2 separate regions of the Homo sapiens genome follow, and region 1 is linked to region 2. The links come from fine-mapping of genetic effects on gene expression. Tissue or cell type: whole blood. Region 2 holds a variant in brackets; the other region holds the start of a gene. All regions are shown on one strand. Distances are between the middles of the regions.

Evidence for each region. PIP is the estimated chance that this variant, and not a neighbour inherited with it, causes the effect.
Region 1: it holds the start of CBR4, and the variant in region 2 is fine-mapped to the expression of CBR4 in whole blood (INTERVAL, PIP above 0.99).

The regions. Positions count from the first base shown.
Region 1 is chr4:169,002,315-169,018,499 of GRCh38, forward strand. It overlaps CBR4 (carbonyl reductase 4), which reads right to left and starts at 7,941. Exons shown (of 5, transcript NM_032783.5): 1 at 7,634-7,941; 2 at 5,322-5,442; 3 at 4,441-4,577. The coding sequence starts at 7,775. It overlaps CBR4-DT (CBR4 divergent transcript), which reads left to right and starts at 8,115. Exons shown (of 2, transcript NR_185919.1): 1 at 8,115-8,142; 2 at 8,470-8,746. It also overlaps the pseudogene RNY4P17. RefSeq lists enhancers at 6,942-7,891, 7,991-8,320, 13,832-14,332, 15,397-15,897.
Region 2 is chr4:168,948,760-168,964,944 of GRCh38, forward strand. LOC107986200 (a long non-coding RNA gene) reads right to left here. Exons shown (of 2, transcript XR_001741450.1): 2 at 13,766-13,860. It also overlaps a transcript of CBR4 not described here. Among named protein-coding and RNA genes, the nearest start is that of CBR4, 53 kb to the right of the region's middle. The variant G/C (reference allele first, on the strand shown) is at 7,035.

The DNA.
Region 1 (16,185 bases), 54 kb after region 2:
CCTTGTCCTTTGTTAAAATTAGAAATTCTAACCATTGTCATCAGTCATTTACGGAAGATTTAAGAGTCCAAGTCTGCTCCAGATACATACAGAAAATAGCATCTGAAAGCAGCTGATACAAAACTGCCAATGCAGGTGCTTGCGAATTGATTCACTACGTGAAGGGGATGCACTCTAATCTCTGAGTAGGTCAGATATGATGAAAATTCTGTGGTATTTATAAAGGCTTCCAGCAGGTAGAGGTTAAAGCCAGAAAAAGTCAGACAAAAGCTGACTAATTTTATGATTCTACAACACAGACATAAGGCAGAAAGCTCTCGTTTTCACCCTAAAAACTAGTTCATTTGAAGCTAAATCTCACTAAAATTGAATTACATGCATAACTCATTTTATTGTTCTGCTTTATTGTGCTTTGCAGATATTGCATTTTTTTTTTTTTTTTTTAACAAATTGAAGGCTTGTAGCAACCTTGCAACAAGCAATTCTATTAGCACTTTTCCAACACCATGGCTCACTGTGAGCAGTGCTCACTCTGTGTCTCTTTGTCACATTTTGGTAATTTTCATACCATCTTAAATTTTTTCATTATTATTACATCTGTTATAATGATCTGTGATCAGTGATTCTTGATGTTTACTGCTGTTGGGGTGCCACAAACAAAATATTACTGCTCACTGACAATGCATCTGGTCACCAAAGAGCTCTGATGGATATGTACAAGGAGATTAATGTTGTTTTCGTGCCTGTTAACACAATATCCTTTCTTCAGCTCATGGATCAAGGGATAATTCTGACTTTCAAGTCTTATTTAAGAAACATTTTATAAGTCTATAGCAGTCATAAATAGTAATTCCTCTTAGGAATCTGGGCAAAGTAAATTAAAAGCCTTCTGGAAAGGATTCACCGTTCTATATGCCATTCAGAACATTTGTGATTCATGGCAGGTCAAAATACCAACATTAACAGAAGTTTGAAAGAAGTTATTTTAACCCTCATGGATGACTTTGTGGGGTTCAAGACTTCAGTGGAGCAGAATTACAAGTGGAGCCTGAAGATGTGACTGAATTGCTGCAATCTTATGATAAAACAAATGGGTGAGGAGTTGCTTCTTATGTATGGATAAACAAAGTTGTTTCTCAAGATGGAATCTCTTCCTTGTGAAGATGTGAATACTGTTGAAAGAAATGACAAAGGATTTAGAATATCCTATAAACTTAGTTGATAAAGCAATAGCAGGGATTGAGAGGAGTGGCTCCAATTTTTAAAGATCTACTTGCATAAAATGCTATCAAACAGCATCACATGCTGCAGAGAAATCTCTCACGAAATGAAGAGTCAATCAATGTGGCAAATTTTGTCTTATTCTAAGACTTGGAACCAAATCAAATGTGCAACAATGACAGACTGGATTAAGAAAATGTGGCACATATACACCATGGAATACTAAGCAGCCATAAAAAATGATGAGTTCATGTCCTTTGTAGGGACATGAATGAAATTGGAAATCATTCTCAGTAAACTATCGCAAGGACAAAAAACCAAACACCGCATGTTCTCACTCATAGGTGGGAACTGAACAATGAGAACACATGGACACAGGAAGGGGAACATCACGCTCTGGGGACTGTTGTGGGGTGGGGGAAGCGGGGAGGGATAGCATTGGGAGATATACCTAACGCTAGATGACGAGTTAGTGGGTGCAGCACACCAGCATGGCACATGTATACATATGTAACTAACCTGCACATTGTGCACGGTACCCTAAAACTTAAAGTATAACAATAATAAAATAAAAAAATAAAAAAAATAAAGAAATTGCCACAGCCACTATTATCAGTCAGCAGCCATAAACATCAAGGCAAGACCCTCCGCCAGCAAAGATTATGACTTGCCAGAAGCTCAGATGATCATTAGCATTTTTTAGCAATAAAGTATTTTTTTAGCAACAAAGTATTTACATTTTTTTTAGATATAATGCTACTGCATACTTAATAGACCATAATATAACTTTTACATGCACTGAGAAACTAAACAATTGGATAAGACAAAATTTGCCACATTGATTGACTCTTCATTTCATGAAAGATTTCTCTGCAGCATGTGATGCTCTTTGATAGCATTTTATCCAAGTAGAACTTTAAAAATTGGAGCCTCTCCTCTCAATCCCTGCTATTGCTTTATCAACTAAGTTTATAGGATATTCTAAATCCTTTGTCATTTCAACAGTATTCACATCTTCACAAGTAGATTCCATCTTGAGAAACAACTTTGTTTATCCATACATAAGAAGCAACTCCTCACCCATTTGTTTTATCATGAGATTGCAGCAATTCAATTTGTGTGACTTACATTCTTGACATATTCGCTTTATTCCGGTGGAGCAGAACCAAAGCTACAATATCTGCGAGACATGCTTGTACTGTCAATCTAAATTGGCAAAGCTTCAATTATACACTTTTTGTAAAAGTGCAATTTCATTACATTCAGTGATATATTGTAAACTGTACTGCCTACTGAAGATTCTTGAGTGACCACATCTAATGAATATGTAATAATAATTTTTAATTCAAATATCAACTATATGCAAATAAACTCTTGCAAAACAGAAGTGGGGAAGTAATTTTCTGCACCACTGACCTGTACTTATGATACAAAAATTAATCAAGGACCTCACAAAATTTTTTTAAAGTAATTTTAAAAAAAGAAAACATTCCAAACATTTCTCTATTAGAATCAACAAGTTCAGTATTAGAATATTTATCTACATTATATATTGTAGGCCAATTAATAACAAAGGAAGAGAACTGTGAAGTACACAGAGAGAACAGACATCAGACTGAAGAAATGCATATGGATAGAGGGGTGTTTATCAGAAAGAAAAATACAGAGACACAAAAAAAGAAAAATACATGCACGAAAAAAATACCAAAACAGGGCTGGTCCGATGGTAGCGGGTTATCAGAACCTATTAACAGTAGTGTCACTAAAGTTAGTATACAACCCCCAACTGCTAAATATGAGTGGCTTTTAAAAGAAAAAAAAACACAAGCTGCTTTAGCAGCTTTGATTCGTGCCACGCACTACTGTTCATCAGGTCAAAAAGTGGTAATTTCTGAAATACCAATGAAGTGTCTGGCAGTTTAAAGTAGTCCTTCCTGTAGTAAGATTCTCAATTTACTATCTATTATTTACTTTTAGCTCAATTCTAAAAGTTTTGCATGCATAAGGAGGACTAATGGGTTTTTTAAATACACCTAAAAAAAAGAAGATTTTAGAGTTAAACAAATATACCTCAGGTTATCAGGTGACAGATACAGGCCTGTTTGCCTGCTTGTAAGTATCCAAAGTCCTTATCTGGCTGTGTTAAAAGGCAAAGGTTGACTCATTGACTAATCTCTTACATAAGAAAACGGATCCCTTAAATTTTTAAGAGTAAATGTCCAAAATGCTCTCATGTCCCCTTAGTTTATTAGCATAGTATTCTTTCCTTTTCTCACTTTCAAAACAGAAAAACTCTAAATTCTGGCTTGAAAAACCATTTCCTACATTTAAAAGAACAGGGTCACTTACTTTTATGGAGCAGCATCTCCCTTCTGTGGCCTTTTAAGGTATTACCATTTGAAAATAAAAAGCAGATGGTATACTATTATTTCCAAATTACCAAACTGAAATAAAATTTCAAGTCATTTTGCATTTTAAGTTCTACAGGCATATACTCCACAGCTTATCTGCCCTGTGGGTTAGATGAACTGAAAACTAGGGGTTACTTACATCCATTCTTAAAAACAGAGAAATTTTATCTTCCTTTAAACCTCTACACAAGATTTAACAGTAACCCATGAAACTGCTGTAGACAATATTATTTAGCCACCACTGTCTACTTTAATTCCTTGTCCATGTTTTAAAAATCAGGTTCCTGGCTGGGCACGTGGCTCACCTCTATAATCCCAGCACTTCGGGAGGATCACTTGAGCCCATGAGTTAAAGACCAGCCTAGGCCACATAGTGTGACCTCGTCTCTATTTAAAAAAAAAAAAATTCACATAAAAATCAGAATGATCCAATTTCTCTTGAAAAATCAAAATTGCTGGCAAAACTGGGACCACATTCTTGCACGGCAACAATCTACTGAATCTAAGTGGTGGCCTCCACCATTCCATATGGGCTCTGGACAATGAAGCTGGATATCATTTATCACATGGCTGGTACTGTCATTTTTCTAGTACTCAGTGGTGTCACTCATTTAACACCTGCCTGACTCCTATAGGGATGTGAATGTGTGATTCTTATTTTACTCATTAATCAATTAATTAAATCCTTTTTTCCACAGATAATATAAATTTCATTCATGTTTCACAATAAATCACAAATTCGTGGATTAAATATTTTTATGGTATGGTATTATGGGATAATCATAAATTCACAAAGGTGAAGACTCACCTACATTAACAATAGACCCTCCCTGTTGTTGAATCATAGTCCTCATGGCAGCTTTACAGGTCAGCATGGAACCCAAGAGGTTAGTATGAAGCTGAGATACCATATCTTCAGTTTTTGTTCTTACTAAAAGACCATCCCTACAAAAAGAAACAGCATATAATAGCATATAATAACAAGATAAAAACCAAAAAGGTCAAGACTAATGTAACATTTTTACTGAGAGTGCAAGAAGTGCTTCCTATCTGAGCTAGAATAGCTAGAATACCTAGAGTCCCATTTTGAACTTGGCTTGAGAAACATTAAAATAACAATTGATAAACCAGAAAGGATCCACTTGGAAGACAGGTTGCTACCCCTTCTCAGCTTGAGTGGCAAATATTCTTAACCCCTAAAAAGTAGTAACATATAGCCAAAATAGTTTGAATGGCCTGAGCAACTGCCATACTAAGCCTTGTTTAGCAAGAAAATTAATATGTTATCTAAATATTCTCTCCTAAATTCATCTTTTAAAAAATAATATCCACTCCATGATTCTATTAGTATTAAGTTCACAAACTGGCAAAACTTATCTGTGGTGACAAAACTCAGAAAACAGTTACCAACAAGGAAGTATTGAGAAGACACTACCTTCTGGAGCACTGGAAACATTCTACGGCTCAATATGGGTGATGATTACAATGTTAAAATCGACTCAACTGGACATTTATTATATGTTGTATCTCAATATAAAGGAAAATAATTTATGGATTGACAAGTTTTAAAATAGTTTTTTCTCCCAGTTAGAAGCAAAATAAACATATTAACTTATACCAATCAAAGACATATTAGGAATAAAAGTTTTAAATATATATATAAGAAACTTATTTAAATCTGTGACCAACCTGTTAATACCAGCTGCATTTACCAAGAAATTTACTCGACCTAAATGTTTCTCCAGCTCTTCAAATGTATTTTGAACATCATGTTCTTTAGCAACATCACAGCTAAATGCCAAATGATCTCCTACACAACAAAGTTAAATAAGAATTACTTATAACTCAAATTTTAAATTTACTCAATACACATTTGTTAAGCATCTATCTAAGATGGCAGGCCTGTGCTAATCTAGAACCTAAAGATTAAAAAAGTAATGTCATGAGGCCTGGCTTTCATAGAGTTGGTCTAATGAAACTGGGATGCGGGAACAAAGAGGAAATAAAGTACTACTACAGAAAGTTAATTTTAAAATTTTCTTTTTAATCAACAAAGGGGGGAGGGCTTTTTCAAGTTATAAAGGCTCTGTAAGATTCATCTAATATTTATAGCTTTAACACTGAATTCATGCTACCCAATTCGACAGTCTTCTGGGTTTTATATTCCTTTTTTGAAATTTATGTCTAATTCTGTCAGGTTTTTGTTGAATTAGTTTCTTTGGCCCTGAACGGGAACTCTTGGGTTTCTTCTTTTTAAGTGCTACGGATGCACTATGGCACATATATTATAACGACTATTATTCAAACCTGACCATCAGGAGAGATGAGACAACACAGGAAGCTATAAAAATGCTAAAACTACAAACCACGGGGGGAAAAAAACACTTTTTACTAAAAGCAACTGTTACTTACCACTTTTAAAAAATGGTTAAATGCCAAAAAAAAACTACACTTCAAAGGAAAACAAAGCATTCCCTATGTAATCTACCATTTTAATACTCTAAAATGTAGGATTGTTTTTAAAAGCTAAAACAATTCTTTATTTTCTGTCTGACCTTGATAAATATGCTTACACCAACACTACCCCATCAAGCCTTTGGAAACAGTAAGCGACCCGGGGAATTATACTTTCTAGATGAAAACCAATCACTCATGGAACACGATTCAAAGGAATGCAGGGCCCAAAAGCATCCTGTGTCTCTCTTACTCTTGGTTTTCACCCGAAGACTTGTGTCCACAACCACCTTTGAAAGCCCAACTAATGGCTTCAATCCAGTCCAGCAAACACTGATGGCTTGGGGTGACACAGTAAGGGTCACCACTCTTCCCCTCCTTTGTTAGAATGGTAAGGAATATGAGCTTCAAGAAGCATTCACTGACACTCTCCCTGACCTATAACTTACAGAATCTTTTTTCTTTTAGAGAGCCCAATAGTCTCCCAACCAGCACTGAACAGGTGATACCAAACCGATCAATAATGTTAACTTAAAAATGAACAGCCACACCTGGCGTCTATAGTCCCAGGTCCTTGGGAGACTGAGGCGAGAAGATCTCTAGAGCCAGTAAATCAGGAGTTGGGGTCCAGCACGGGCAACATAATGGGAAGCCCTCTCAAAAAAAAAAAAAAAAAACCAGATACACAAAAACAGTAAGAGCCACAAGACGCACCCCTAGGCCTCTATTCTCCCCATGCCTCCCTGATAGTAAATGAAGTATAATTTTGTCCATTCTGGTGATTAAACAAATAGCATCTTCGGATCTAACGTCCTATTTCTCCCTAAACTCAATGAAGAGTTATATTCACAAAATGACTAATCCATTCATAATAAGCCGGAAATAAAAAACCCTGAAGTTTAAATGCAATAAAAAAGAATTTGGCAGAACAAAGTTCAATTGTCCATTTGCAAAACTCACCAAAACAATTTAATAACATTAAAGCAAACCAGGTATATCTCAAAACTGGCTGGTACTCAAAAGGGTTTCTCTATCAAACACTGCTTTGTGCATTCGCGCAGGGCCAAGGCACGGCCCTTGGGCAAAACTGAAGGGAGCCGTTGGTACCTGCACTCCCACCTTTCCTGCCTGAACTCCTTTCGACCCAGCCCTGTCTCCGGGGGCCGAGAACTCGCCCTTTTCCCTACATTAAAAGTAAACTGTTACGTGGCTCTCTCCCACAACAGGGAAGCTCCTCAGCGTTAGCACTAGCCGCAGGGCGGAGGGTGCGTATAGCGGGGCCTCAAAAGACTACGAGGTCTCAAAGAACACCCCAAGTGTTCAGCCCTCGGCGGCAAGCTGCGTGGCCGGCATTCTGCGAGGCATAGGGAGATCGCGGGTTTCTGCACGAGACGCATTCTACCCTTGGAACGGGAGAGCGCCTGCACGCGGCTACATCGAGTAACCCTAGAGCCCTAAAGGCCAGACCCGCTCTTTTTACAAAGGAGATTTTCTTTAGGCGCCTGGACCGCGGCCATACAACTGGACAACTCCAGTTTGGTACCTACCGCCGAGGTCACCGGCGGCGGCTTTGGCCCCTTCCAGGTTTCTGGCAATGACCGCCAGTCGGTAGCCTTTCCGGGCCATTAACTGGGCCACAGCTCTGCCAATGCCTCGGGAGCCTCCAAAAACAGCACACACTTTGTCCATCTCGGAGTCACAAACTCGGAGGAAAGAGGGTAGGGAGTGGGAGCCCCTCTCCAGGTTCCCTCAGGCTTTTAAACAACCGCGGTTCCAAAAAAAAAAAAAAGAAAAAAAAAGGCAAACCGCAAAAAAAAATAACGCCGCTCGACACCTCCTGCAGCCGCACAATAGTAATGCAAGACGCCGTGAAAAGGAGGAAGAGCTCGACGTCGCCGCGTCGACGTCATCACGCACGGACTCTTCCGCGCCACACCTAACAAATACGCCGACGAGAGCTCCCCGCCGGCGGAAGAATGGCCTGGAGAGGGCCTCGATGCTTGCTGGGACCTGTAGTCTTGACGCATGAGAGCAACTGGCGCAGGCGCGCTGCTCGGTGGGGAATGTACTTGTGGCACTGAGGGGGATCCTCTGTCCCCGCTGGGTCATATCAGTCGGGATTCGAGCCCCGGTGACCAATCGACCCGGTTTGTTCGGAACTGACAGGGTTGTCAAGACGCTGGGCTTTCCCTGGCAAACCAAGACGACCTGATCACGTAGTTAGAACCCAGAGAAAGCATTACTGGGCGTGAGCCGGTCGGGGCTCCGGTATTTGCCCTTCGCCCAGGTGTTGTTTTGGCTACAGACTTGATGTCCTACCTGTTGAAGAAGTCCCCAAGAATCGCACCCACACCAAAACCTACCCTACCTGTTCCTCCCCCAGGTTGCTGTAGAAATGGACCTCTACCCGCCCAGATGTTACCATTCATCGCGAAGGGTGTCGTGAAGATGAATGCCCTGTCGAACATCATCCAGCAGGAGGTCAAGGAATTTTAACTGAATGATTGAATAGTCTTGCAAGATCTATGAAACAAGCTTCGGCTGCTGTAGAGAAACAAAAATGGGTTCCTGCAATTCTAAATAAGATGTACTGGGTGCTCTGAGAGTTAATAAGCTAAAAAATTCAATGTTTGTTACAATTATAGTGTAAACAGAAAGCATTTCTGATACAATATTATTTTACTAGATTCAGAAAAGTATGAGCCATGGTCCCTACCACTAAAAAAACTACAACCCAGAACTACAGGACTAATACACATGAAACACTAGGAGGTATCCAAAATCATACTTAGTAAAATGCAAAATTATATTAACACAAGAGCTCCGAGAAAATGGAGATCAGTGAAGAATGAAGGGGTGCATGGAAAAGCTGGATTTGAGGGCTGGATGAGGTTTGAAAAAAGGAAAACAAGAGCAAAAAGTCTATAAATAAGCAAGTTGAGCATTAATTTAAATTTGTTATTCCTATTCCATTTAGATCCAAAAAAAGATTTGAAATGGTTTGCAAAAATACATGAGTATTTGAATTTAAAAGGCAAAGAGGACCACTGCCCCTTCTCCCACAAGGCCAGAACAATAAATTAGGTCAGTGGAAAAAATACGAATAAAGTCATGCTATAAGAATCTATTTAGTATTAAAGAAGAGATTCATAAACTTAGAGTTTCCTGCCAGCGAAAGCAACAAAGGAAATATAATTACAAGTGGTAATTTCTGTAAGAAATCAGCCTCCTGGTTATGCAGCAGAGAAGCCTGAGCAAAACTCCCTCCTCATAGGTCCTCCTAAATGGCACACTAAGCATTGTAGTAGACAGTGAGCTTCATGAAAAGAAAAAGAGATTGTAAGGCTGTTTTCATAGCATCTATTAGACTTTATTAAAAGCAAATACAATAGGAAGTTAAACAATATAAGCAAACAGTCACACATAAAAATTGTGTCTTTGAAACAATATATGTTTGAAACAATGAGGAAACAAGCCTGAGGAAATTTGGGATGGTGCTATATTATAGTCAGCTTTAAAGTCAGGTGCCAAGCATTAAACAGGCCTTTAACTGCAGAAGTAATAAGATAAGAGCTGCATTTAAGAACTATTAGCAGGCCAGGCGTGGTGGCTCATGCCTGTAATCCCAGCACTTTGGGAGGCTGAGACAGGAGGATTGCTTGAGTCTAGAAGTTCAAAACCAACCCAGGAAACACAGCAAGACCCCCACCCCCCCGACCCCCATCTCTACAGAAAATACAAAAAAAAATTAGCTGGACATGGTGGCCTACCTGTGGTCCCAGCTACTCGGGAGGCTGAGTTGGGAGGATCATGTAAGTCCAGGAGGTCAAGGCTGCAGTGAGCCATGATTGCACCACTGCAGTCCAGCCTGCATGACACAGCAGGACCCTGTCTCAAAATAACAGTGTTCTAAAAAACAAACAAACAGTTTCCCAGTGATGTAAAAATGGGTCAGATCAAATTTGTCTATTCACTTTCCTACTATACACTATGCAATCTTGGAAAGAAAAAACTGTTTTACATAAATTACCAATATAAGGGTCAGCCTAAATGCCAACTGTATTCCTGCACCTTAGGTCAAACCAGAGAGGTTTATCTTTTGAACAGTTCTCTCCATTTGCTAGGAAAATGATTATTTTTTTTTCTACACATTGTTATTTTAGCAAAAAAAAATGGTTTTTAGATCTATGCCATCTATCATGAAGATCACTAACACATGATATGAGGTGACATTCAGAATTCTGAAAACCTTCCAACTTTTCTCACTGTATATATACTGTAAATGGATAAGCTGGGCTTTTTATTCAACACATACCTCAGGTTAAACCTCAAGGTTATTATTTATTTTTTTTCCCTCTTAATACAATATCACCACTATCCCGGGTGAGAATACATCTATCACAGCACATCACCCATTAGCTGAGAAGGTTACAGCAGGGGAAGTTTCTCTGTAAGCCCCTGATAGTGAAGTGAGGATCTGTAAATTAAACTGGGTCTCCCCTACCCAGCAGGACATTGAAGGAAGCCATTAGAATGACCCACCTTTAGTCTTTCCTTCTCACTAAACATGCCACTTTTGTGGTAATATTTTAACCATATGTTATACTTTAACTTAAATCCACATAGGATATATTTTCTCTTGGCTCCCACAATCGAAGGAGAAAATTCCTTATGTATAAGGACTGTTATACAAATTTTTAAATATGCATACCTAGTATTACTTTTCTGATTACAAAAGGAATACCATTTAATTGCTAACAGTTAGAAAACATAAACTTTTTAAAGTAAATAAAAACTCATTGAAAGCATTGTACACTTTAAGCGTGTGAATTGTATCGTATGCAAATTATATCCCAATGGAACTGTTATTGAAAAAGATGTAATTTAAAGCCTACTGCCCTGTTATACGAAATTTGAATCTGCAACTAATTATAAGGGGGTTGTACCTTTCATGAATATTTTTTTCATACGTCAAGATTTATAATGCCCAAGATTCCAAATATGCAGGAAAATTTATTTATAAGAAATTTATGAATTATGATTGAATATTCATTGAGAATCCTCTTTACAAATGCACCATACTAAGCACATCCAGCTTATCAGATCCATAATTGAAGCATAACCCTTCCTGCCAGCAAGCAGTCTCCCAGGATTCTTCAGGCAGTGATGATAATCTGCACGACCCAAATTGCATGTGGCCAGCTAACTTCTCCATACAGACCATGCTCTTCTTTCAAGAAGAAAGATTAGAAAGCTGCCTTAGTGTGGCTGCACAGATATAACTTTTATGATTAAAAAGCATGTTGATTTCCTCATTGGCATTCTTGTATCCAATCTGCTGGGTAATCTAAATTGTAAGGAATGTACTTTTTATCACTTACAAAAGTTTATTTCATTTTGATTGGGAACAAAAAATGTGGCCCATGAGCTTGTTATTTTGTTGAATTGGCGTTTATGCCTCTGAGGCTGCCCACCGAGACCTAAACCTGGCACTCAGTTGCCTAAGGCAGAAGCATGGAGTTTATTCCTTCCCTCTCTCAACATCCCACATCCAATCAGTCACAAAGTCCTGCTGATTCTACTCCCTAAATACCATTCCAACTTCTACACATCCATGCTTCTCCAAACACTGTCTTCTCAACCTCGAATGCTCCCACTGCTTTCCCTGGTAACATCTGATTTATCATTCAAAATGTGGCTCAAACATCTCTTGCAATGGAAGCTTCTCCTGACCCAAAGGAGGACATGCTGATGTCCTTCTTTACCCGTCCTCTTACCTTGTATGTGTCTTCAAGTCTGTATTTCATGGAGTTACTGTGACGTCAGAATCCACATAATTTTAGGAAGATAGTGAATAGATTCTCAAGGATCTGTGAACCTACCAAGCTGAATACAAAATCTCATGTGCTTTTTAGATGAGTAGCTTCTTGAAAGAGGGTCCACTTCCTTCACTGGGTTCTCAAGGGGAACTTTCACCTAAAATGGTTAAGTGCCAGGTGTAGTGGCTCACGCCTGTAATCCCAGCATTTTGGGAGATGGAGGCGGCAGGATCACTTGAGCCCAGGCATTTGAGACCAGCCTGGGCAACATGGTGAGACCTCATCTTTTTTAAAAAAACATAAAAAATAAAATAAAATGGTTAAAAACTTTCTGTTTTTAATTGCCAACTCTTTGAATCCAGAAATGATCACATTGGTTTTTGTTTCCCTGTTTGTAGCACAGTTCCTAGGGCTTGTGAATGCTAAATAAATGAGTTAACAAATGAATCAATGAGTGAATGAAATAACTCACTTAAAAGGAATTTATTGCTATAAGCAAGAACCAGTGTCGATACAGCTATGATTAAGATAGACCTGGTGCCTGTTTTCGTTGGGAAAATAATCTGGCAAGGAAGACAGACATTAAACAATTAATCATGCCATCACTATTTAATTCCAATGGTGGGAAGAACTATAAAGGAGAAGTACAGGCTGCTAGGAGGGATCATAACTAGGGGCATTGATCCAATATGGAGGCCTGGGGTCAGAGAAGGCTTCTTCTTTCAGGACATAATGTTCTATAAAGTAAATGAATAATAACAAAGAAAGATTGCAAAGAATGATAACTACAGCTACTATCCATTCATTATGTTACAAAGCCAACTAGGTGATAACATAATTTATACATGAAGAATAAAATTCTGAATTAAAAATTCACCCTTAATAATGAAAGAGATTGTTAGTCAAAGTAGAGTTAGTATTACGCCTAGATGAGATCACAGGTTGGACATTTCACCAGGAAGTACCATGGGAGAGCATAATGCCTGAAATTTTATGAAACTCTTTTTTTTTTCCCAGCCAAAAATTTTATAATGGTATAAAGCCAGCTCTGGATACTTAAAATCAGGCCCCAAATGCAGCACGCCTGCCAAGCCACATAGAAGAGGAGAACTCAGTGTTCCTGAAATTAGTTTTAAGACTGGCCTCAATCCTCTGACCCCAGCCTCTCACTATTCCATTTCCATCTCTTTGTTTCAGGGCCTTCCCCCCTCTATCCTTCTGGCTGCATAGTCTCACGTGGCTCTCAACTCACCTGCTGCATTTCCCAGACTTAAGTGAGCCTTTCCCATCCAGGCCCTGCGGCTACTCAGACTCCTAGATCTGTATCAGAGGCACGGGCCTGGCAGCCTTCACTGCACTTGGGCTCTGAAAGACGTTCTCACTCTTGCAAGTCACCTGGGAAAGCCAGAATCGATACTGTATGGTTTAACATTTGAAACTGACTTGCAGGTAATGGCTTCTGCATTTCCAGAAGGCACCCGTGTGCCTGTAGGGATCTCATTTTAAGGATCACTGCTTTTTGTTTCTCATCTACAGGCTACAGAGACCCATCTCTCAGTTTGGATTTTGATTAAACAGTTATGCAGAGTAGAAAACTTGGGCCATACACAAAACTTAATTAAAATAAGCCTCCACTTGGGATTAATGTATGTTATTGACTGAATCGTGTCCCTCCCCGCTCCCCCCTCTCCTGCCATATTCATATGTTCAAGTCCTAACCTCCAATGTGGCTGTATTTGGAGATAGTGCCCTTAGGGAGATAATTAAGATTAAATGAGGTTCTAAGGGTAGGGCTCTAATCCAATAGGACACCAGAGAGCTTGTGCTGGGAATCTCTCTCTCTCTCTCTCTCTCTCTCTCTCTCTCTCTCTCTCTCTCTCTGTCTCTCTCTCTCTCTGTTGCCTCCCTGTACAAGGCCATGTGAGGACACAGTGAGAAGGCAGCTATCTGCAAGCCCGGAAGAGAAGCCTCACCAGAAACCAACACGATTGCACCTTGATCTCAGACTTTCAGGCTCCAGAACTGTGAGAAAATTAATTTCTGGTGTCGAAACCACCCAGTCTGTGGTATTTTTTTATGGCAGTCCCAGCAGATACAATGTGACTGTTTACTTTCTTCTCTACTACAGGCAAGCTGCAAAGTGCTGCTAAGTAATATCACACAGCCACTGCTGATTGTGTGAGTTGAGTTGGGGAGAGGTTGTTACTATGAGACCTATTCCAGAGCAGAAACAGGAAGATTGTGAATCTCATCCTCGTCACTTGCCCATGGCCTGCAGCATCCAGACCCCTCGAGGTCCTCTCCTATCTTCTTGCCAAAGCTTACTTTCAGGGAGGACTTGGAAATTCATTCCCTCTAGGTGGTAAATAATGTAACAGCATAAAGTGTTATGTCACCTAGGGACATGTAAATTGAGCCGAGAGCCAAGTGTTAAGCTAAAGGGATGACAATCTAACAGGGAAATATCATCTAGCATCTACCTGTCCAACAATATGAATCTACTGCGAGCTCAGGAACATCCCCAGTATCAGATGTAAAGCTCTGGGGATAAGAGGGCAAAGAAGGCAATTACCTGAATTGTGGAGCTCACATGTGTTGAGAGAAACAGACAAATAAGCAGATTACGATACAGTGTGATAAAGGCTGTAAATGTGAATGAAGTGCTATAGGAACATAGAGCTTCAGGCTCAGGCCAAATAGGCAGGGGGGCATGTGTGTGTGTAGACATCTATATATGTATACATATATACACATGTGTATATTTTATTATAGGTATACATTATAGGTATGTATGCATTATTATATGTATGTGTATACATGTGTTTGTGAGAGTGTGTAGGTGGGTGGGTGGGTGTGTAAAAGTAAGCCCTTACTGGCCAGACACGGTGGCTCACGCCTGTAATCCCAGCACTTTGGGAGGCCAGAGCGGGTGGATCACTTGAGGTCCAGAGTTCGAGACCAGCCTCACCAACATGGAGAAACCCTGTCTCTACTAAAAATACAAAATTAGCCGGGTTTCACATGCCTGTAATCCCAACTACTCGGGAGGCTGAGGCAGGAGAATCGTTTGAACCCGGGAGGCTGAGGTTGCGGTGAGCCAAGATTGCACCATTGCACTCCAGCCTGGGCAGCAACAGTGAAACTCTGTCTCAAAAAACAACAACAACAACAACAACAACAACAAAAAACAAAAGTAAGCCCTTACCAAGATAACAGCAAATGCTCATTGGATAACTTAAATGCTATGTGCCAAGTACACTGTCTACTTGTGTTTAATTCTCACAGCAAACTATGATGTAGAAAAATATTGCTACCCTTGTGTTTGCAAACAAGGAAGCCAAAGCACAGAGATGTTAGATTGTCCAAGATCACACAACTAGTAAGTGGCAGAACTTGTAGAATTTCTACTCAAGCAGTCTCGCTACAGAGCCTTCTCCCCAACCACTACATGATATTGTCTCTCCCTCATCTTCCCAGGAATCCTGAAAATGTACCATATACACATAAATCCAAATCTGGAAACTGACTTTAGATAGTTGTAATTGTAGTTGAGATTCTTTTTTGGCTGCAAGAAAGAGAAGCCCTCGAAAGCAATTCAAATATGTGTTTATGATGCAGAATATGACATCAACAAAAAGCAAGCTGGGACCCCGTGGAACTAGAGATGGGCCTCATTGGGAGCCCCAGGGACCACAGCAGCACATCCCTCTGCCCCCTTAATGCTCTCTGAGGCCGTAAGAGCCCCCTTCTCTGCTGTCCTCTGTTTTAAATTTCTCCTTCCTGCAGACCCACTTTATTTACTAATCACACAGTTGAAAATGGCTGAGCCCCATAGGACTTTTCAGTTCAAGGGATTAAACTCTGACTCCCTTTGTTCAAGACAGAGAATTGGATTGGTTGTTAATGAGGGGATAGATTAGCGCCTGTGGAGAGCAGTTCTCGGGGGAGGCAGGTTGCCATGTGAGTGAGTGGGGTGCTCAAAGGCGGAAGGTGCACCCGCAGCCAAGCACCATTGCCACAGGGGCTCAGTGTGGGCGGCCTTATTAAAGGAGGCTTGGCTGGGCATGTGCTCCCCAGCAGATCAGATACACCATACAAGCAGCATCCCCCTAGGGGATCTTTGCTCAAAATAAGCTCTGTTTTAAATGCAACATGTACACCATTTAGTCTCCTTAACAGACTACTGCCTTTTTCTCTTTTTCAAATATTATTAGCTGAGCTCAATGCCCCATGAAATCTGTAAATGTTTTGTTCCAAGTAACCAGTAGTGAGTCCCAGAA
Region 2 (16,185 bases):
GACTATGGCCTTATGGTATAGTTTGAAATCAGGTAGTGCGATACCTCCAGATTTGTTCTTTTCATTTAGCCTTGCTTTGGCTATGTGGGCAATTTTTTGGTTTCATAAGAATTTTAGAATTGTTTTTTCTAATTCTGTGAAGAATGATGGTGGTATTTTGATGGAGATTGCATTAAATCTGTAGACTGCTTTTGGCAGTATGGTCATTTTCACAATATTGATTCTACCCTTCCATGAGCATGGGATGTATTTCCATTTGTTCGTGTCATCTGTGATTTCTTTCAGCAGTGTTTTGTAGTTTTCCTTGTAGAGGTCTTTAGCCTCCTTGGTTAGGTATACTCCAGAGTATTTAAATTTTTTTGCAGCTATTGTAGAAGGGGTTGAGTTCTTGATTTGATTCTCTGCTTGGTTGTTTTTGGTGTGTAGAAGAGCTACTGATTTGTGTATGTTAATCTTGTATCCAGAAACTTAGCTGAATTCTTTTATCAGTTCTGGGAGCTTTCTGGAGGAGTCTTCAGGGTTTTCGAGGTAAACAATCATATCGTCAGCAAACAGTGACAGTTTGACTTCTTCTTTACCGATTTGGATACCCTGTATTTCTTTCTCTTGTCTGATTGCTCTGGCTAGGATTTCCTATACTATGTTGAAGAGAAGTGATGAGAGTGGGCATCCTTGTCTTGTTCCAGTTCTCAGAGGGAATGCTTTCAACTTTTCCCTACTCAGTATTATGTTGGCTGTGGGTTTGTCACAGATGGCTTTCATTACATTGAGGTATTGTCCCTTGTATGCTGATTTTGCTGAGAGTTTTAATCATAAAGGGATGCTGGATTTTGTCGAATGCTTTTTCCACATCTGGGTAATGCTGGCTTCATAGAATGAATTAGGGAGAGTTCCCTCTTTCTGTATGTTGTGGAATAGTGTCAAAAGGATTGGTACCAATTCTTCTTTGAATGTCTGGTAGAATTCTGCTGTGAATCTGTCTGGTCCTGGACTTTTTTTTGTTAATTTTTAAATTACCATTTTAATCTCGCTGCTTGTTATTGGTCTGTTCAGGGTATCTAATTCTTCCTGATTTAAGCTAGGAGGGTTGTATTTTTCTAGGACTTTATCCATCTCTTCTAGGTTTTCTAGTTTATGTGGGTAAAGGTGTTCATAGTAGCCTTGAATAATCTTTTGTATTTCCGTGTTGTCAGTTGTAATATCTCCCATTTCGTTTCTTATTGAGGTTATTTGGATTTTCTCTCTCCTTTTCTTGGTTAATCTTCCTAATGGTCTATCAGTTTAATTTATCTTTTCAAAGAATCAGCTTTTTGTTTCATTTATCTTTTGCATTTTGTTGTTGTTTCAATTTTATTTAGTTCTGCTCTGATCTTGGTTATTTCCTTTCTTCTGCTGGGTTTGGGTTTGGGTTTGGTTTGTTCTTCTTTCTCCAGTTCCTTGAGGTGTGGCCTTAGAATGTCTGTTGTGCTCTGTTAGGCATTTAGGGCTATGAACTTTCCTCTTAGCACCGCCTTTGCCGTATCCCAGAGGTTTTGATAGGTTGTGTTATTACTGTCATTCAGTTCAAAGAACTTTTAAATTTCCATCTTGATTTCATTTTTGACCCAAAAGCAGGTTAATTTTCATGTATTTGCATGGTTTTGTAGGTTTCCCTTTTGGAGTTGATTTACAGTTTTATTCCACTGTGGTCTGAGAGAGTGCTTGATATAATTTCAATTTTCTTGAATTTATTATGGCTCGTTTTGTGGCCTATCATATGGTCTATCTTGGAGAAAATTCCATGCACTGCTGAATGGAAAGTGTCTCCGATTGTTGGATGAAATGTTCTGTATATATCTATTAAGTCCATTTGTTCCAAGGTATAGTTTAAATCCGTTCTTTGTTGACTTTCTTTCTTGATGACCTGTCTAGTGATGTCAGTGGAGTACTGAAGTCTCCCACTATTATTGTGTTGCTTTCTATCTCATTTATTAGGTCTGTTAGTAATTGTTTTATAAAACTGGGAGCTCCAGTGTTAGGTGCATATATATTTAGGACTGTGATCTTTTCCTGTAGGACAAGGCCTTTTATCACTATATAATGTCCCTCTTTGTCTTTTTTAACTGCTGTTGCTTTAAAGTTCATTTTGTCTAACATAAGAATAGCTACCCCTGCTCACTTTTGGTGCCTATTTGCATGAAATGCCTTTTTCCCCCGCTTTACTTTAAGTTTGTGCGAGTCCTTATGTGTTAAGTGAGTCTCTTGAAGTCAGCAGATAGTTGGTTTGTGAGTTCTTATCCATTCTGTGGTTCTGTATATCTTTTTTTCTTCTTTTTTTTGAGATGGAGTTTCGCTCTGTCACCAGGCTGGAGTGCAGTGGTGCAATCTTGGCTCACGGCAACCTCCACCTCCCAGGTACAAGCGATTCTCCTGCCTCAGCCTCCTAAGTAGCTGGGATTACAGGCACCCACCACCACGCACAGCTAATTTTTATATTTTTAGTACAGATGGGGTTTCACCAAGTTGGCCACAATGGTCTCGATCTCTTGACCTCGTGATCCACCCGCCTCGGCCTCCCAAATGCTGGGATTACAGGCGTGAGCCACTGCACCTGGCCAGTTCTGTATCTTTTAAGTGGATCATTTAGGCTATTTATATTCAATGTTAGTACTGAGATGCAATGTACCATTCCATTCATCATGCTATTTGTTGCCTGTGTACTGTGGTTTTTTGTTTTTGCTTTTTAAATTGTATTTTTGTTTTATAGGTCCTGTGAGATTTATGCTTTTAAAGAGGTTCTGCTTTGATGTGTTTCCAGGATTTGTTTCAAGATTTAGAGCTCCTTTTAGCAGTTCTTGTAGTGGTGGCTTGGTAGTAGCAAATTCTCTCAGCATTTGTTTGTCTGAAAAAGACTATCTTTCCCACATACATGATGCTTAGTTTCACTGGATACAAAATTCTTGGCTGATAATTGTTTTTGTTTGAGGAGGCTGAAGACAGGGCCCCAATCCCTTCTAGCTTGTAGGGTTTCTGCTGAGAAATCTGCTGTTAGTCTGATAGGTTTTCCTTTAAAGGTTACCTAGTGCTTTTGTCTCGTAGCTCTTAAGATTCTTTCCTTCGTCTTAACTTTAGATAACCTGATGACAATGTGCCTAGGTGATGATATTTTTGCGATGAATTTCCCAGGTGTTCTTTGTGCTTCTTGTATTTGGATGTCTAAGTCTCTAGCAAGGCTGGGGAAGTTTTCCTCAATTATTCCCCCAAATATGTTTTCCAAATTTTTAGATTTCTCTTACTCCTCAGGAACACCAAATATTCTTAGGTTTGGTTGTTTAACATAATCCCAGACTTCTTGGAGGCTTTATGCATATTTTCTTATTCTTTTTTCTTTGTCTTTGTTGGATTGGGTTAATTTGTAGACCTTGACTTCCAACTCTGAATTTCTTTCTTCTACTTGTTCAATTCTATTGCTGAGATTTTCCAGAGCATTTTGCATTTCTATAAGTGTGACCAATATTTCCTGAAGTTTTGATTTTTTTTTTATGGTTATCTATTTCCTTGAACATTTCTCCCTTCACTTCTTGTATCATTTTTTGGATTTCCTTGCATTGGGCTTCACCTTTCTCTGGTGCCTCCCTGATCAGCTTAATAACTAACCTCCTGAATGCTTTCTGGGGTAAATCAGAAATTTCTTCTTGGTTTGGATCCATTGCTGCTGACCTAGTGTGATTTTGGGGGGGTGTTAAAGAGCCCTGTTTTGTCATATTACCAGAGTTGGTTTTCTAGTTGCTTCCCATTTGGGTAGGCTCTGTCAGAGGGAAGGTTTAGGGCTGAAGGCTGTTGTTCAGATTCTTTTGTCTCACAGGGTGTTCCCTTGATGTAGCACTCTCCCCTTTTTCCTATGGATGTGGCTTCCTGAGAGCCGAGCTGCAGTGATTGTTATCTCTTTTCTGGGTCTAGCCACCCAGCAAGTCTACCAGGCTCCAAGCTGGTACTGGGGGTTGTCTGCACGAGTCCTGTGATATGAACTGTCTATGGGTCTCTCAGCCATGGATACCAGCACCTGTTCCGGTAGAGGTGGCAGGGGGGTGAAATGGATTCTGTGAGGATTCTTGGCTTTGGTGGTTTAATGTTCTATTTTTGTGCTGGTTGGCCTCCTGCCAGGAGGTGGCTCTTTCCAGAGGGCATCAGCTGTGGTAGTATGGAGAGGAACTGGCAGTGGGCAGGGCCCTAGAACTCCCAAGAGTATATGCCCTTTGTCTTCAGTTACTAGGGCGGGTAGAGAAGGACTAGCAGGTGGGGGAAGGGCTAGGCATGTCTGAGCTCAGACTCTCCTTGGGCAGGTCTTGCTGCAGCTGCTGTGGAGGATGTGGGTGAGGTTCCCAGGTCAATGGAGTTGTGTACCTGGGAGGATAATGGCTGCCTCTGCTGAGTCATGTAGGTTGTCAGCGAAGTGAGGGAAAGGCAGCAGTCACAGGCCTCACTCAGCTCCCACACAATCCGAAAGGCCGGTCTTACTCCCACCGTGCCCCCCCGCAAAAGCACCGCATCTATTTCTGTTTCCAGACAGTGGGCAAGCAGGGTTGTGTCCTCAGTATTTCTATTTCCTACAAATTGGCAGCTGGATCCAGAGGTAAACAGTAGATTTAGAGGCTTAATAAAACCTACATTCACTCTGATCTGCATTTTTTTTTTTGGTTTTTTGGAGACAGGGTCTCATTCCGTTGCCTTTGCAGTGGCACAATCACAATCACAGCTCACTGCAGCCTCTCAACGTCTCTGGACCAAGCAATCCTCCTACATCAGCCTCCCAAGTAGCTGGGACCACAGCATGCACCACCTGCAAAGCTAATTTTTTTTTTTTTTTATAGAGACAGGATCTCGTGTGTTGCCCAGGTTGGTCTCGAACTCCTGGGTTCAAGTGATCCTCCTGCCTCAGCCTCCCAAAGTGCTTGGATTATAGGAGTGAGCCACAATGTCCAGCCCAATCTGCTTATTAACACTCCACTGTTAAGCCTAAGAAGATAGCCAAAGATTGCCAAACATTTTAAGACAGCATCTAATATGACAGGGATCTAAATAATACAGAAGCTTGGAAAGTTAGAGCACATAGAGAAGAAAACTTCTATTATTAATTTGTCCAAGCTCAAAGAAATAACAGAAGACACTGCATCCAGGAAACAAGCACAGGATGCTATAGATAAGGAATATTTAGAAAAGGAACTCTCAGAAAGTAAAAAATAAGTAGCTAAAATTAAAGACTCAAATATAGTTTGAAGATAAAACTGGGGAAATCTCCCAGAAAGTAGGACCAAAAAGAGAGAAAGAGAGATTTATGGAATCCACCAACAGATGAAAAAAGACCTAAATCAAAGACTACCACAATAAAATGTTATAACAATGAAAGCAAAGAAAATGTCCTGAGCATTTCCAGAGGCAAATACACACACACACAAATAAAATACATTTTATTTAAAACTTCTTAAGCACAACACTGAAAGACTTAAGACAATGAAACAATTCTTTCAAAATTCTGAGGAAAATGTTTCCAAGCTAGTATTCTGTCTTAGTCCATTTCCTGATATTATAAAGAATACCACAAACTGGGTAATTTATAAAGAAAAGAGATTTATTTGCTTCATGGTTCTGAAGGCTGAGACATAGTACCAGCATCTGCTTGGCCATTTGGTGAGGGCCTTCTTTTTGCATCATCCCATAGCAGAAAGCAGAAAGGCAAGCAAACTCCACCCTCATAACCTAATCACCTCTTAAAAGTACCACCTCTAATACTATCACAATGGCAATTAAATTTCAACATGAGTTTTGGAGGGGGTACTTAAACCATAGCATATTCTACACTCAGTCAATTTAGTATATGGGAAATTAAAACATCTGCAAATACTGAAGGTCTCAAATATTTTGTCTCCCAAACACATTTTTTCAGAAAGTTACTTGAAGATGTACTCCACCAAATGAAGTCATAAACCATGAAAAGGAAGACATGAGATCCATGGAAGAGAGGATCCAACGTATTAGATAGGCAAAGAAAATCCACAAGATGATACCGCCCCTAAACAACAGCTATGCAGCAGAAAACAATCAGTCAAGATTGGAACAGATCAGAAGACTCCAGGAAATATTTATTCAAGATAAGAAAATGATAAATTACTCAATGTTTCTGAATGATATGAACAGGATATTTATACAACTGAGAATGGTTCGGAATTAATGAATTAGTGTTGAGAACACAGATAACTAATTAAATGAACAAGAAATAGAATTATCAATTCCAGGAAAAACAAAATACTGTGCAGGCAAGGAAAAGTAACTATCAAATCCTACATAGTTTAGCTGTGAATTATATTTATGTAATTGTCATAATGTAGTTAATGATTATGATATAACTATATTGGAGGATGGCAGGATGGGAAGTATGCTTGCATACAGCAATGTAGGGTGCTAGTCAAAGAGAGGTAAATCCTCCTCTTCCTTACTGAGAAGTCAATACATGAGGCCTAATTCTGAAAAATCAAGAAATATGATAAATTATAAATAAGGGGGCTAATACCAAATGAATCAGAGATTAAAGTGATTCTCTTTGAGAAATAGGAAATGACTCTCCAAATAATGTTAATATATAACTGATAAATAGAAAAGCTAAATTTAAACAAACACTGTTAGGTTGGTGCAAAAGTAATTGTGGTTTTTGTGATTAAAAGTAACAGTATTGCTGGAGCTATGGATAGTAGACACTCTTTCAAAGACAGCTGAACATATTTTATGCTACTATAGTTTTCTCTTTCATTGCTTTCAGGTTGTAGCTTAGGTCACATTTCTCACTCACAAGAGTGAGTGAGTGGAAAATTGTAAAGCAAAGCAGGATTACTATGGAAGGTAGCACTCCAAAGTATCCTGTAGGAATATATCCCCATCCCTAGCCCCAACCTGCCCCAACTATGGATCAAAGATTAAAGGCTGGGAAAACCAGCCTTAGAACTGACATCAAGTGCATATGTCAAGAGACCGGTCAGGACAGACCATGGACTATGGGCCTA[G/C]AGCATAAAAGCTGCCAGCTATGCAGCAGCAATGGCCACAAGGGATTAATCTGAGCTCAGTACAACTTGACCACAGAGAAAGGTGAGATTAAAATGAGTCAGACCCTAGTACCATGGGAAAATTTCATGGTTGCTTGGCAGCTCCTTAATAACCTATGGGCACAAATATTTACTTCTAACTGACCCCTTAAGTAAGGGGATTAAAGTGTCTGATGTATATAAAATACAATCGGCACAGCAGCACTGCTTTTAGAACAAGTATTCACTCTCTGAGATATGTTCAGCAATATAGATCAGAGTTAACATTTTGTGAACAAACCAGAAATCATACTGCTCAGAACCCATATGTTTCAGATCAAAATGAATAAATTTGAAAATAGGACTTGAAAAATAAGGCTCAGAATGTATATCAGCAAAGTGGAAAAGACTGGAATACGAAACATAATGCTTCCAGCACTGGGAGGACCCCAGATACAGGGAGGACCCCAGATACAATACACCAGCATTCCTTATCAAGAGTAAGGGAAATAGGCTGGGTGCAGTGGCTCACACCTGTAATCCTAGCACTTTGGGAGGCCAAGGCAGGAGCCTAGAAATTCAAGACCAGCCTGGGCAACATGGCAGAACCCTGTCTCCACAAAAAAAAACACAAAAATTAGTTACGCACGGTGGCGTGTGCCTATAGTCCCAGCTATGTAGGAGGCTGAGGGGAGAAGATTGCTTGAGCCCAGGAGGCAGAGGTTGTAGTGAACTGAGACTGCACCACTGCACTCCAGCCTGGGCGACACAGCCAGACCCTGTCTCAAAAAAAAAAAAAAAAAAAAAAAAAAAAAACAGAATGGAAATAATATTTACTAAGTACTTACTATATGCCAGGTTTACACCAGTACCTTAACGCTATTTCATTTAATCCTTACAATAAGTGTAGGAAGGGTTATTCTCTTTTCCAGGTGAGGAAACAGGCTTAGAGAAAGGATATAATTTGCCAAAAGCACGATTAGTTACAGAACTGGAACTTGAAACCAGAACTATCTGGCTCCAAAGGCCTTATCTTTCCATTAACCTCCCTGCAAAATACGTGAAACCCTATACTGAGATGTTTCACATCTATGAAAGGGCACTAAGAATTAGTAACATAATCACCTTATAGTAGATGAGTAGTATAAGACATCACTCAAAATTCCAGTAAAGATATACATGAACAAGATTCCTATCTTCCCCCTGGCAAAAGCAGTAGGTATTAATTTCAAATATGCCCACAGATACTTAAATAATATGTGCGTCAGCTAAAGTGATTTAAAGATGAGGCATAGATTTCCATCACTCTCAGGAAGAAGAAATTGTCTCTTCAGAATATATTCTGAACACTACATCGCCACCATTCACTTGAAGCCTTTATCACTCAAAAGCTTTCAGAGGAGGAAACCAATATTAAACATTCTTATTTAGGCTAAATTAAAAATGATTTACTTACTCTTGAAGAGGCTTCTAATTAAAAGAGTAAAAAATCGCTTTGACAAACATCACACTAGATGACATATGACTAGTCACTACAAGACTAAACATTGTACCCCTTAGTGTAGGTAGGGGGAAATTTTGTTCTCCAATGCTGTGTGCCCCAGGTTGTTTCCTCAACCAAAATTCAGAAACCTTCTCCCATCACTGCTATCCTCCCTTTGTTTTTACCAACTTAACTGAGGTGTAACTCATTCATTTAAAGTGTATCTGAATTGTGAAAACATATACACCCACGAAACTGCTACCAGAATCAAGATACAAACTACTTCCACCACCTATAAAAGTTTTCTCATGCACCTTGTAGTCCACCCCTGCCTTCACTCCCAGGCCCAGACAACTGTTGTTCTGCTTTCTGCTATGGTAGATTAGTTTGCATCTTCTAGAATTTTATATGACTGGAATCACGCAATATGAATTCTGATATGGTTTAGCTGTGTTCCCACCCAAATGTTATCTTGAACTGTAGTTCCCATAATCCCCACATGTCGTGGAAGGGACCCAGTGGGAGGTAATTGAATCATGGGGGTAGTTACCTCCATGCTGTTCTCGTGATAGTGAGTTCTCACGAGATCTGATGGTTTTATAAGGGGTTTTCCCTGCCTACACTCAGCACTTCTTGCTGCCACCATGTGAAGAAGGACATGCTTGCCATGCTTCCCCTCTGTAAGTTTCCTGAGGCCTCCCCAGCCCTGCGGAACTATGAGTAATTAAACCTCTTTCCTTTATAAATTACCCACGAGGTCAATAGTTCAAGACCAGCCTGGCCAACATGGTGAAACCCCGTCTCTATTAAAAATACAAAAACTAGCCAGCGTGGTGGTGAGCACCTGTAATCCCAGCTACTCGGGAGGCTGAGACAGGAGAATTGCTTGAACCCAAGAGGCGGAGGTTGCAGTGAGCCAAGATCACACCACTGTACTCCAGCCTGGGTGACAGAACAAGACTCCATCTCAGGAAAAAAAAAAAAATTACCCACTGTCAGGTATGTCCTTATAGTAGCATGAGAACAGACGAATACATACTCTTTTTTGAATCTGGCTTCTTTCACTCAGCATAATTATTTTGCAATTTATCTATGTGTATAATAGTTGTTTTGTATTCCTAAGTAATATTTTATTGTATGGATAGATTATATTTTGTTTATCCATTCTCTTATTAATGAATATGTGGATTGCTTACAATTTTGGCTATTACGAATAAAACTGCTATGAACAATAATATACAAATCTTTGTGTGAACACGTATTTTTATTTATATTGGGAAAATATGTAGGAGTAGAATGGCTGAATTTTATGTTAAGTTTATGTTCAACTTTTTAAGAGAATGCCAGTTTTGCAGTTTGTAACATTTTACATTCCCACCGGCAACAAAGTTCTAGTTGCTCCATATCCCCAATTGGTATTGTCAGCCTTTTTCCTTTCAGCCATTCTAATGGATATCTGGTGGTATCTCATTGTGGTTTTACTTTGCATTTCCCTGGTGACTAAAGCTACTGAGCATCTTTTCACATATCTACAATTACTCAGATATCTTTTGTGAAAGGTCTATTCAAATCATTTGGCCATGTTTTATTTTGTTGTCTTATTATTCGTTTTAGGAGTCTGTTATATATTCTGGTCAAAAGTCCTTTTTCATGTATATATGTATATATATAGTTTCACCTAGTCTGTGACTTTCTTTTTCATTTCCTTTTCTTAATGATATCTTCCAAAGAGCAAAATTTCTTGATTTTTATAAAACCCAATTTACCATTTTTTTTCTGTATGGTTTATGTTTTTGGTGTCTTATCTAAGGAATCACTGCCTACCCCAAAGTCACTTTTGTCCTACATTTTCTTCCAGAAGTTCTATAGTTTTAGTTTTTAGATTTATGTCGTATCCATTAAAATTAATTTTTTTGTATGGTGTGAAGTAGGGATTAAGGTTCATTTTTTTCACATGGCTATCCAGTTGTTCCAACCCCATTTGCTCAAAGTCTTTCCTTTTCTTCACTGAAATTGCCTTGGCACCTTTGTCAAAAATCAATTGACCATACTTGTGTGGCTCCACTTCTGGGTTCTCTCTTTAGTTCCACTGATCTATATATCTATCCTTTCACCAATACCACACTGTCTTGATTACTGTCACATCATAGTTCATCTTAAAATCAGGTAGTATAATTTCTCCAATTTTGTTCACCTTTTATAAAACTGCTTTGGCTAATCTCGGTGGTTTACATTACCACAAATTTTTAAATCAGCTTATCAATTTCTTTTTTTTTTTTTTTTTTTTTGGAGATAGAGTCTCACTCTGTTGCCCAGGCTGGAATGCAGTGGCATGACCTCGGCTCACTGCAATCTCCACCTCCAGGGTTCAAGCAATTCTCCTGCCTCAGCCTCCTGAGTAGCTGGAATTACAGGCATGTGCCACCATGCCCGGCTAATTTTTGTACTTTTAGAGAGATGGGGTTTCACCTTGTTGGTCAGGCTGGTCTCAAACTCCTGACCTCGTAATCCACCTGCCTCGGCCTCCCAAAGTTCTGGGATTACAGGCGTGAGCCACCACGCCCAGCCTCAATTTCTATTAAAAAAAAAAAAAAACCTTCTGAAATTTGTATTTGAATAGTACTGAATTTATACACAGATCAAGTTAGAGAAAACTAACATGTTAACGATATTGAATCTTCCAACCCAAGAACATGGTAAATTTGTCTATTTAGATCTTTAATTTCTCTCCATCAATATTACCTAATTTTCAACATACAGGTTTTATACTTCTGTTAAATGTATTCCTAAGTGTTATGGTTTTTAATGCTACTGTAAATGGAATTTAGTCCCATTTTCCTATTGTTTGCTGCCATTCAAGAAGCAGAACTCTCTGTCTTTGGTACAATTTATCTGGTAAAAGAGGGTAATTTCTACATGGAATTATTATTTCATAAACACATTATAGCCACATTATCTCAAAGTTAACCACTTTTGTTTTTGTTTTTAACGCAGTAAACATTTCTCCAGTGTCTACTATTATTTGAAAGTACCAAAACAAGGGAGGAGAAACATGGAACCATATAACAAATACTACATAAGCTCACAATCTAGTGGAAAAATGAGTAAATCATTTTAATATATGCAGTATATGCTATAACTAGAGAATGTATAAAATATTCAGGAAGTCTTAAAGGATCCAGAGAAGTTCACCAGAGGCATTCAGATAGAAGAAATACATTTTTCTACTATTGTATACTATCAGTTGTACTGAAAAGATATACAGATCAATTAACAATATTGAGTCTTCCAACCCAAGAACACAGTAAATGCTGTATAGATGCTATTTACTATTTCCTTTTTAAAAACACCTTTATTAGAATAAGTACTACATGAAACTACTCTTGAATATAGTGTAAGTGATCATATTAATATTTACTTTCTTAAATCCATGTACTTTCTTAAAAACAAGATTGCCACAAGAAAGAAATAAGTTTGCTGAGATTTAAAAGTCTTTATGTTAGAAGAGAGAGTACCTCTTACCAAAATGAGCATGTTTCCTGTTGCTAGATTATGCTGGTAGGTATGCGGTGGCATCTATTTCAACTTAGATAATAACACAACTCTATAAGCACAAGCTGTTTCCGGTCGAAATTATTAGTCATGAACACCAAAATCTGAATGAGCTCTATCCAATCTCAAACTGCTTGCTGAGCAATTCCACAAGAGAATTTGATGGGGACAGCCAACTTTAGAGCCTAGAAAGTGATCACGTATTACAAGACGGTGGTTATGGGTACTAGGTAACAGCATAAAAGCAGCACTGACCAACTGAAAGGCAAGAGATGATACTGACGCTTTCTTTGTCCTATTGAAATTTTTTTTCTATGACTGGCACTAACTCTGAGACATAAATCATATGAATACCTTGCTCAGTTGCAGATTCAGATTTAAACAAGGAGCTAAGTGCCAAGTTTTCATCCCTATGCCAAGTGTTTGAAAAGTAAGTTAGAAACTGTAAATCTTATGTCTTTTCTACATATATATATCTAAATTTATTCTGTCTTGTATGTAAAGAGTTGTCTCAATATCTATAGAATATTATATTATGAACAAAAAAGAATTTCTAGACAGTTTAGAGATGCTTTATCCAAAAGAATCTAAAACATTCACGGACAGGTTTCTGGCTGTCTACTGTGAAACCCCTAAAAATGTAAAATTCAATATGTGTACTTTTCTAGGTGGAAAGTCCACAGTTTCCAGTTTCTCCATGAGATCCATGAACTAAAATAGCTTTAAAAACACTATATTTAAAAGAAAAGAAAAGAAAAAGAGACCGGGTGTGGTGGCTCATGCCTGTAATCCCAGCACTTTGGGAGGCCAAGGCAGGTGGGTCACCTGAGGTCAGGAGTTCGCGACCAGCCAGGCCAACATGGTGAAACCCCGTCTCTACTAAAAATACAAAAATTAGCTGGCCATGGCGAAAGGCGCCTGTAATCCCAGCTACTCATGAAGCTGAGGCAGGAGAATTGCTTGAACCCGGGAGGCGGAGGTTACAGTGAGCCAAGATCGTGCCATTGCACTCCAGCCTGGGCAACAGAGTGAAACTCTGTCATAGAAAGAAAGGAAGGGAGAGGGGAGGGGAGGGGAGAACAAGAGGAGAGCACAGGAGAGGAGAGGAGAGGAGAGGAGAGGAGAGGAGAGGAGAGGAGAGGAGAGGAAAGGAAAGGAGAGGAGGAAGGCAAGCAGGCCAAAAAAAAAACCATTATATTAAAGAGTTAAACGTTTTTAAAAAGAAAAAAGATGTAAACAATTAAAAATTAGGTAATCTCTGAAAGAGTACAGCAATGAAAGAAAACACAAAGGAAAACCATTTTACTATGTATTTCAAATAAAATCCTAAAATTAAAAGGTAAGTCAAAAACTAAGGATTTTTTTTTCTACTCTCTCCCCTTCTTGAAAGCGAAATATTTTATGGAAAATACACAACCATATATTACATTCACAGCAAAGTGTTTTTATAACTCAAGACAGGTGGAGATGTTATAAAGTAGGCATTCTGATTTACTGCTGATATACTTTTCCAAGTCTGGACCACGTCAATGGATATCAGGATGGAAGGGGTTAGAAGAACTCAAGGTTGCTTGGAAATTAGGCTTAATAAGATATGATTAATGAGTAAATGTACGGGATGGAAGAGAAGAAAGACTTGAGGATAATACTCAGGTCTCTGGCTTGATCCACTAAATAATTGAGAGTGAATATTAAGATTAAGAACACAGAAGAATTGCTGGTTGGTAGAGAAAGATGATGAGTTCCATTTTGTACATGTTGGATTTGAGGAATCTGTAGGATATTCAAGAAAAATACAGTTAAATATATGAATCCAAACTATAAAAAAAGCTAAAGTGAAGATATACTTGGATATTATAAGCATTTTTATAAAAAGTATCTAGATTGCTAATGGAAACGTGTTGAATAAGAAGACAGCCCAGGACAGAACTTTGAGAAATCAACAGCTAAGAGACCAGCAGAGTAAAGGAGCACATAAAGGAAATCAATAAAGAAAATCAGAAAGAGGAAGAAAATCAGGAGTGAGATGTCATAGAACCCAAGGGGCAAAAACAGTTTTGGAATTCTTAAAGACAGAGAAGAGAAGGGGGACTAACCTGTATTAAATGTCTACTAGATACAAAGTATTTCAAACACTTATACTTTAACAAGTATACTCCTCATTTTGAGCATTAGGAACCTATCATTCAGATAGTTTAAATAATTGTCCAAATAAAACTGTAAGTGCTAAAACAGAATTTTAATTCCAGTATTTCAAAATCCATGTTCATTCCACTGAAACTAACGGAAAGGACTGAGGAAGCACTCAGAAAGATTTGGATGGTCAAGCCCTGACTTAAATTGTGGTTGATTTCAGCACAACTGACTGCCAAAAGCCAGTTTTATCCTGATGTTATCATAGCACCTCAGCTAGGAAAAATTAAAATGCTAATAATTTTTAAAATCCAGATACTTCATAAATTAGTCAGATGTTCTTCAAAAAGGTGGGTAACTGTTGAAAGCAGAGTTACTTACTCATTCAGAGAAGATAACAGAACACAGATGTCTTATGCCACAATGGATTGACAATTAGAGCACCTGAGTTCCCAAGAACATTAGCAAATTCAGAAACTCCTGTATAAATCTTTTTTTTTTTTTTTTTGAGATGGAGTCTCACTCTTGTCACCCAGCCTAGAGTCCTATGGTGTGATCTCAGCTCACTGCAACCTTCGCCTACTGGGTTCAAGCAGTTCTCCTACCTCAGCCTCCCAAATAGCTGGGATTACAGGTGCCCACCGCCATGCCCAGCTATTTTTGTATTTTTAGGAGAGACAGGGTTTCACCATGTTGGCCAGGCTGGTCTCGAACTCCTTACCTCTGGTGATCTGCCCACCTCAGCCTCCCAAAGTGGTGGGAGGCATGAGCCACCGCGCCCAACCTCCTGTATAAACTATTAATAGCTACTGTACCATCAGCCACAGAATAGGTTGCTGAGGGATGCTCCAAGACCAAAGAAACAAAAAGCGCCTATGGGAGTATAATTACTGTGTCTCCATGCACAATAAAGATTAGCTGGTTGTTCAAAAACCTTTTTTTTTAATGTCATGCCCAAGAACAGTTGGGGAACATCCAAATCCAATCACAATGAATGGCAGTATTCCCAGGATGGAATAACTAAAATGCAACTGACAGGAAATATAGATCATCAGTAGTATAGTAACCCATCAAGCTAAATGCATAAATGGCATCCAGCACGTGGGAAATTTTGCTCTGACCAGCATGATCAAGCAAGCAGGTATATTTCTGTGGAAATGGCATCTGAGCCATCACAGAACAATACTCTGACAATATCATTCAACTACACTCCCCTTGCTTGTGTTGCATGATTAGACAACTGTCTGGTTAAAATTTAGGCTGTTGTAGAAAACCAAGGTCTGAGTATGCATATGTTCTCTCAAACTCTCTTCCCTTTAACCTCAGCTTTCTTGAGGCCACTAAGTTTTGTCAAAATCAATTGATTTTCTTATGTCATAATGCCAGACACAGAGCAAGGCAAGGAAAATAAAAAATAAAGACGACCTTCAATCGAAACACACAATCCAATGGAAACAAGTAAAGCCTAAAAAGGTATTTTTCTCCCCACAAGCCAATGCACCTTCTCTCTTTGGTAAGCAGTGGTAAAAATGTCATAGAATAGTATGCAATACTCTTCATATCAAAGAAACCCAGCCACTATAACAACCACACAGAAGTCACTATCAAGAGAATGAGTATCAGCTGTAATTCCCCAAACTGAAGTATAAACATTAATATAAGAAATAACTCTAATGGAGGAGAGGACAAGGAAAACTTCTTGGATGATATGGTATTTGAGAGTAGCCTTGAAAACTAAGATTTCAATAAGCAAGAAAAGCTCTGTCAGGAAAGAAGGGTCTCCAAGGTTGAAGAAACATTGATTTAGTAAGTCAACAAATATTTATTGTGCAAGTATGTGTAGATCACTGTGTTCAGCACTTTGAGTTACCATGAACCAGACTCTAAGGCTTATATTTCATTGGTCAGCTTTCAGTCACATAGCCACACTTAGCTTTAAGGCAGTTTGGGACATGTTTTTTGTTT